Regions from separate parts of the Homo sapiens genome. Here region 2 is linked to region 1. A link means that fine-mapping ties the variant in region 1 to the expression of a gene that starts in the linked region. Tissue or cell type: whole blood. Region 1 holds a variant in brackets; the other region holds the start of a gene. All regions are shown on one strand. Distances are from middle to middle.

Region 1 (4,159 bases):
GCTGCAATCATCTGAAAATAGCTTTCCCTTTCGACCTCATTTTGTTGAGATAAGTTTAGGCATGAAACAGTAGTCAGGTGCAGTAAGTGGGGATCCTGAATCCCAGCAGATGAGGCTGGATGAGGACCTGACCTCAAGGATTCTTGTTTGTTTCCTCCACCCATCCACAACAGCATGCCTCTCTCCCTTATGCCCTCCCTCCTGCTGCACCCTTCCCACAACATCCTGTAATCCTTGCTTCTTCCTTGGCCTGCTTTCTCATGCTCCATTCTCTATGTCTAAACTAGAGAGAATTCTCTTAATTAAAACTGGAGCAGGGATGGATATTGAACATAAAGAACGGGATGGGGAGGGAGAGTGGGCTGGTGCGGTGGCTCACGCCTATAATCCCAGCACTTCAGGAGGCCGAAGCAGGCAGATCACTTGAGCTCAGGAGTTTGAGACCAGCCTGGGCAACACAGCAAGACCCCATCTCTACAAAAAATACAAAAATTAGCCAGGCATGGTGGCATGCGCCTGTAGTCCCAGCTACTTGGGAGACTGAGGTGGGAGGGTTGCTTGAGACCAGGAGGTCGAGGTTGCAGTGAACCAAAATCATGCCACTGCATTCCAACCTGGGTGACAGAGCAAGACCCTGTCTCAAAAAAAAAAAATTAAAAATTAAGAAAAAAAAGAACAAGGGGGAATCCAGAACGATGCTAGCTAATAGAGGCACGTGTGTTGCCAATTTGAAAAGACATCTGAGGCTGGGCATGGTGGCTCATACCTGTAATCCCAGCACTTTGGGAGGCCAAGGCAGGTGGATCACCTGAGGTCAGGAGTTTGAGACCAGCCTGGCCAACATGGTGAAAACCCATCTCTACTAAAAATACAAAAATCAGCCGTGCATGATAGCACGCACCTCAGGAGGCTGAGGCAAAAGAATCGCTTGAACCCAGCAGGCGAAGGTTGCGGTGAACGGAGATCGCGCCATTGCACTCCAACCTGGGCAACAAGAGCGAAACTCCATCTCAAAAAAAAAAGACATCTGAGAAGAGAACAGACAGCTGTCACTGCTGTGGCAGCAGCCCTGCCTCAGGTGTGTGGCCCCTCCCAGCTCCAGCCGCTTGACCTCTGCTGTCTGCCCTCTCCCATTCCCCTCCTGGGATACACATTTAGAGAACAACTGGCTCAGCAACAATTAGCCTTTTCAGAAATGCCAGTGAGTTGCCACTTCTTACTCCTGTGCTGGGGCTTTTAACCGTTTCAGGAGTGCCAGCTTCCCCATCTCCTCTCAGCTTCACAGGCAAGCCTGAGGGGCTGCGTGAAGACAAGTGGCTCTTGGTTTTCCTTACCTGGACCTGCAAGCCAACTATTAAAGTATTCAGGAGAGATGATCTTGCTGTGCAGGCACAGAACTGGACCAGACACAAGCCCAGATGGTGGAGGAGAGGGGGTGGGTTGGGGAAGCTTCCAGGGTCATCATGGGAAATAGCACAGAACATGGGCTCCCTTCTAGATTCCGTGTATTCCTGGGGACCTAGAAGCCAGGTGTCCTCCCCAAGCATCACAAGGGTTAGACCACTCTGCAGGGTATTTAGGAGTCCAGGGCACTTCTGTGTGTTACCCACAACCCAGATGGATGAAAATTGCAAGGTGTATACTTATTTGCTGCCTTGTTCTCTGAGGGACCCGTCTGCCTCCACTACCACACACTTCAGTCTTACATCCTGAAATATCTGACATCTGACATTCCCCCTGCAAGAGAAGTACAGAGAAAAGTGGAAAGTGAATGAATTATTTTGCATGCTGGGTAAAAGCATTTAAACAAATGGTGATTAAACCCAAAAATGTTTCACAAGACCTGTTTCACAATTTTTCTGCATTTATAATAAAGTAGATCAAGTCTTCTTATGACTCAGTCTTCATAAGACTCAGTCTTCACAGATCCCACCAGGAGATGCTCTGGAAAAGTTTCGACATGGAGATTGACATCTTTATTCATTCCTAATCCAGTTCTTGAAAAGAGTAAACAGAGATATGAACAAGAGACAAATACATTTATCCAGGGAGGCAAAACAGTATTCTCAAAGTCACCCAATCAACCAAGACAGTTTCTAGTGAAGACCTGATTCATCAACAAATCTTTTCTTCTTCTCCTTCTCCTTCTTTTTCCTTCTTTCTTTTTTAAGACAGGGTTTTGCTCTGTTGCCCAGGTGGGAGTGCTGTCATGATCATGGCTTATTGCAGACTTGACCTCCCAAGCTCAAGCGATCTTCCTGCCTCTTTTTTTTTTTTTTTTTTGTATTTTTTGGTAGAGATAATCTCACCATGTTGCCCAAGGAGTCTCACTATGTTGCCCAGGCTGGTCTCAAACTCCTGGGCTCAAGCAGTTC[T/C]CCTGCCTCAGCCTCCCAAAGTGCTGAGATTACAAGCATTAGCCATCACACCCAGCAATCAACAAGTCTTTATGTAATGCCCAAAATGTGCTCAATCCCAGTGCTAGGAGCTGGGATGGAGGCAACAAAGAAATTGACCTGCCCCATTTAAGTGTCATGTATGGTTCAAAAATTGTATGAACCATACATATTCAAACCATACATGGTTCAAAAATTAAATTTAAAAAAAAACTGACGTGCCCTGAAGAAGCTTATGGCTCATCCAGGGAAACCAAATTAACACAGGGTATCAATTGTCCATTGCTTTGTAACAACTAACCCAAAATTTAGTGGCTTAAAATAACAACCATGTACTGAGCTCACTAGTCTGTGGTTTAGGTGGGTATACTGCTGATTGGGGTGGGACTGGCTGATCTTGGCTGGACTCACTCAAGGAAGTTGGCTAGAGTCTGGCTGGTCTATGGTGGCCTCAACCAGGGCAATTCCTCTCTGTTTCATATGGTCTTTTATCTTCCAGCAGGCTCCCTGGGTTTGTTGTTGTGGTCGTGGCAGGATTCCAAGAGAAGGTAAAGGTCGATGAGGTCTCTTAAGACCTGGCCTCAAAACTAGCATGCCATCACCTCCAATGCATTGGACTGATCAAGGCAAGTCACCAGGCCAGCCCAGATTCAAGGAGGGGGAAAACAGACCATACATTTTCACAGGAGGATATGTAAAGTCACTTTGTAAAGGGAATAAATACAGGAAGGAAATAAAATTGGGCCACAATGACACAGGAAGTAACAAGAAAAACCAGCAAGTGGCTAAAGGCCACTCTGTGCTGGGAAGAAGTTGACCAGGTCCCAGGGCTAGAACCCAGGCCAGGCTTCTTGTCATAAGTCAGGGTAGCAAACCACTCATACTGCTCCCAGTCCCTCTGGGAAATAGTTAACATTTGTTGTAGGCCGACAGCCAGTGTCAGTTTCAAGAAGGCTTTTAAAGGTGGGTGGTGCTGGAGGTGGTTCCCAGGCTTGGAATGGGAGATCCAGCATCTCCTTTGGAACTCTCTGTGTCCTTCGCTCCTTAAACAAGCTAGATAGGCACTCCTGGGCCCCCCATTTTCCAGATGAAATTGGGGCCCTGTATGGAAGCTGCCAAACCGTTTTTGAGTCACTGAGGAAACCCTTAGATACTCTCTCCTCTGTGGAGACCTACAGACTTCCTGGATTAACCATAGCAGCCTATGCAGCCTGATCTCACATTGACTCTTCTTCTTCCTGTCATCCTTTGGCTATGATTTGGCTAGGAATGGATACAGATTTATTCTGATGGAGCAGGCTTTTGTTTACTCTCCAAAACCTTCAAGGAGTTTTGTGTGTGTGTGTGTTTTGCCCCAAAATTACATTTGTTATCTGTAGGAGGGTTGGTTTGTAAGGAACTTACCCTGCCATAAGCCACATAATTCAAAATAACTGTTAATTTTTTCCCCGAATTAAATCTGCTGTAAAAATTCTATGGTATGAGAGGCATCATACCATAGAATGAACAGAGTACTGGACTTTAAAACAGAATACCTGATTGTAAAAATTCCATATAATCTTGGAATTGAGAAGACCTCCTTAATTGTCGTTCAAAAATCCAAAAACCATAACAGAAAAGATTAAGAAATTCTACTACATAAAAAAAACCTATCCATATTAAAAGCCACCATATTCAAAAAGTCAAAATACAAACAGGGAAAAATATTTTCACATCACAGACAAATATCTAATCTGAATATATAAAGAGTCCCAAGTAATAAATAG
Region 2 (4,159 bases), 93 kb before region 1:
CCACGTCTAGCTAATTTTTGTATTTTTAGTAGAGACGGGGTTTCGCCATGTTGGCCAGACTGGTCTCGAATTCCTGACCTCAGGTGATCATCCACCTCAGCCTCCCAAAGTACTGGGATTAGAGGGGTGAACCACCGCGCTTGGCCGATTTTTTGTTTATTTTTTGAGACAGGGTCTCCTTCTGTCGACCAGGCTGGAGTGCAGTGGTGTGATCATAGCTCACTGCAATCTCAACCTCCTGGGATCAAGCGATCCTCCTGCCTCAGTCCCCTGCAAGGAGCTGGAACTACAGGCATGCGCCACCCAGTCCGGCTAATTTTTGTAATTTTTTGGAAGGGGACCCAGTTTTGAATTAGCTTCTGTTGTTTACTTCGGATAGCCATGGTGGAGCTGGCAGAGATTTAGGGGATACTAAACACCCCTACAAATCACGCCTTGAAACCCCCCGTTTCAGGGAGAGCCGCTGGCGAAGGACTTGATGCGCAGCCGCAGCTCGGAAGCGGGGGGCTCCCCTGCGACACCTCCCCGCTTCAGGGGCGGGCCCAGACCCGCGGGGAGGGGCATGGGCGGGGCCGCGGCTGGCTGGCGGCCGCCGGGGCGGTGCTGGGGAAACCCTTGGCGCCCCCGCGGAGCGGTCCCAAGGAGGGGGCGGTGCCTGGAGGGATGGTCCGCCCCGACTGCGGGTTTCTAGCCCTCGCGTGGCGTGGGGACAATTAGGCGCCACGCCCTGTCGCTTCACTGCGCGACGCTCGCGAGGCCGGGGACGCCACTCCCAGACCGGGCGGGACGCGCACGCTCACAGTGAGGTCTCAAAAGATCCCCACCTCAGTTTTCTCATCTGGAAAGTGGGGCCTCGTAATCCTGTCCGACCCGGCGCGGGACAGTAGGTGTCAGGGATTTTGGTGACCCCACGCTCGAGGCCTCTGCAAAAGGGGGCTGTCCAGTGGCCCAGAGACGCAGCCGGCGGGGCTTTTGTCTAGCGGGGGAGTCTTAACTGAGAGGCCACGCAGGCCGGCAGGAAGCCGCTCCACAGGAGGGGGCTCAAGGAGAGGGGATCTCCTCCCTCCAGACTCCGGCCCCGCCAGAGTAGCTCTAGGGTATCTTCCCAGAAACTGCCCCGCACGCACTGGCGAGCTGGGAGCGCCACCACGGCTTTCAAAAAACCCGCACACACCAAGATAATAATGTGTCGTTCGCTCGTTTCGCGCAAGCGGAGTCGCGTCCGCCTTCCCGAGCTCCGGCACACAGACCTCAGGCCGCTCTCGCGCTCTCCGGGGCCCCGAGAACAATGCCCGTCCTCTCCGCGCGCAGGAGGGAGTTGGCGGACCACGCGGGGTCGGGGCGACGGAGCGGGCCCAGCCCCACGGCCAGGTCGGGGCCCCACCTCTCGGCTCTGAGAGCCCAGCCGGCCCGGGCCGCGCACCTGTCAGGTCGGGGGACCTACGTGCGCCGCGACACGGCGGGAGGCGGGCCGGGCCAGGCTCGTCCCCTCGGCCCTCCCGGAACTAGTCTCCTAGGCCGCGGCGCCCGCCGGAGCGGAGAGGGCTGGTGCCCCGGAGCCTTCGAGTCGGGGGCTAGAGCGGCCAGGCCTCCGAGCCGGGTCGAGCCGAGGCTGGCGACGGCTGCGTCACGCGAGGGGGCGGGGCTGCCACGGGCGGAGGTCGCAGCCGGAAGCGGAAGAGGCGCTCGGAGCGGGGAGTGGGGCCTAGCTGCAGCCGGAGCCTGGGAGACGGTAAGTGTGGGCTGGGGTCCGCGGCGGCGACAGCGGCGGCGGCGGCCGGGGGTGAGTCGGCGGGGCAGGCGCGCTGGTGCCATTCGGTCTCGGCCTACTCCCTTTCTTTCTCCTCTTCGGCCCATATCGGGCCGCGACCTCTCACCCCTGACCCGCTGCTTCTGCCCCGGAGGGCGGTCACTGCAGACCCTGACCTCGACCCCACGGTGTTGAAGGCGGAGCCTGAACGGCCTCTGGGGCCGCTCAAGGGTCCAGTTTGGGCTCTGTGCCTGCCCGCGGAATGGGGTCGGGGTCCGACGTAGAAGAGCCAGAGAAGCCCTTCAGACCCCTCCCCTACCCCTGGCTTCAGGCTTAGTCCGCAGATGACTCCTCCCTTGGCGGCCTGGAGTTTGATTCTGGCCCAGTCCGGCTTTCCCTCTGTCCCCGGGTCTCCCCTCGGCGCCACTGGTGGCGGTTACAGGGGATGGGACTCTGAGACCCCCTGGGACCTGGGGCGGCAGGAAGGGACGCGAACGAGGGCGCAGGCTCCCCTGTGTGTTTTGTTGTGGTGGTAGAGCCACTCCAGCCCGGAGGATGGGCTAGGCCAAGCTGACAGTTCAAATCCCCTGGCTGCTCCTCCGTCCCGCCCGGGAGTCTCTAGCTTTAGTTCCGGGTGTGGGTGCCCTGATGTGGAGCTGGGGTGGAAATTGCCTGAACCAGGCCCCCATCAGAGGCGGAGTTGGCGGCCTTCCAGCTTCCCTTCTTGATGCCCTTGAAAAGGAGGAGCGTTTCACCGTTGGTGGTGGAGGCTTGCGAGGTGGCAGGTTTGAGGTTGCAGTGGTAGGGCAGTCCAGCCAAAAATAACCATGGGTGCTGGGGTGGCTGGAATCCGGGAGGGCAGCCGCTGACCTGGCTGGCTGCACTTCTAGTCAGCCCAGTTCTCTGGCCAGGAACAGCAAATGAGAAGCCGACAAGGCCTGTGCTCAAAGTTGACATCCTTGGCTTGGTTTTCTTCATATCACCTTTTTCCTCATTGTGCAGAGCAGAGCTTCCCAAAGCATAATTGTGGCCTTTAGCTGCTTTTTAAACAAGCTGTTTGCTGAGGTTTTCGAGAATCAGAGATAATTGAGAAATGGGCCCTAGAGCCCTGGCTGGGAGGATGATATCTGCTATTTCCAATATTTTACTTGCCTAGAATGTGTTAAAGGAAGGATACTCTTCTCTGTTATTGCTTTGTGTGTGGTACCTTATAACTCTCATGCTTGTCATCTCTTTTGCCAGGCTGAGAGATGTTATCTCCATTTTCCAGGCATGCTAACCAAGGCCTAGAGTGACTTGTCTAAGGTCATGAGGCTGGTATGTGACAGCACTAGGATTTAGTTTAGTTTTCTGCCAGAGCTCTTGCCTCCCAGTTTCCTTGGAAGGGACTTATAAAATGTCTGTAAGGCATTTAACACAGCCCTGAAGTGTTACCTGGAACTTTCAGATGTTCATGAAAAGCTGCCACTAGTACCTCTGTGGGCACAAAGCTGTGCTAGGCATTTCACTTATAGGAGAGAGATATTTAATCCTCACAGAACCTTGTAAGAGATTACTATTCCCTTGTTGCAAGATGAAGCTGACGGTCAGAGTAGTGTAATAATTTGTTCAAAGGCACACAGCTAGAAGTGGCAAGCCATGATTCAGATTGACATCTATATGACTCTGAAATTTTGTTTTCCATTGATGTGAATATGTATGGACATAAGAATCTTCTAGGTCCCAGGAGGTAGTCTTTGGCGTGGTGTGACTGTGACTGTGTCCTCCAGCTCTGGTGTTTGTCTGCCCAGTGAGGATGGGCAGGACCATACTTGCCTTGTGGCACGACATGTGCCCTGGCCAATAGAGCATCTTCTGGGTCAATTAGTGGGGTGTGAGTTCCTGCTTTCATTCCATAGCTTGGGCACCTGACCCAGAGTAATTGCAGGAAAACAGTGAAATATTAGTCAGCTGATTACCAAAACAACAAATCTAAGCTTTTGGGGAGGTGATTTCACAAAATATTTATCTCCAAAGACTTCCCAGGTACACGGGGGAAGACAAGTTAGTGGGGAGATGGAGGGCTTTCTTAGGGACACGGAGAGGCTCCCAGGGGTTTGGTCACATAGGCCTCACTGTCCTGCTCAAGCATGGGGAGCTGTTCTATGCTGCTTTTCTCCTGACAGACCCTGCTGGTGAGATGGGGCAGCCTCAGTGGGTTTGTACAAAATGTGCTTGGCCAGGCAAGCTCAGGACTGACCATGACTGGAGGTTGGCTGTGGCCAAGTGTGAGTGTTGGGAAGAAGGCTGGCTCCATGGAGGCAGTCAGGGATTGACGTATGGGTGGAGCAGGTTGCTGGCCTCACATGGCCAGCTTTCTCCGCTGGTGGCAGATCCAGCCTGGCAATTTCATTTGGTGGATATAAGTCC

Evidence for each region. PIP is the estimated chance that this variant, and not a neighbour inherited with it, causes the effect.
Region 2: CLK3-AS1 starts here. The variant in region 1 is fine-mapped to the expression of CLK3-AS1 in whole blood (TOPMed, PIP 0.92).

Annotation. Positions count from the first base shown.
Region 1 is chr15:74,707,324-74,711,482 of GRCh38, forward strand. No RefSeq gene overlaps it. Among named protein-coding and RNA genes, the nearest start is that of EDC3, 13 kb to the left of the region's middle. The variant T/C (reference allele first, on the strand shown) is at 2,376.
Region 2 is chr15:74,614,167-74,618,325 of GRCh38, forward strand. It overlaps CLK3-AS1 (CLK3 antisense RNA 1), which reads right to left and starts at 1,626. Exons shown (of 9, transcript XR_007064715.1): 1 at 1-1,626. CLK3 (CDC like kinase 3) reads left to right here and starts at 1,670. Exons shown (of 13, transcript NM_001130028.2): 1 at 1,670-1,732. RefSeq lists silencers at 445-764, 1,185-1,724 and enhancers at 1,813-2,424, 2,425-3,035.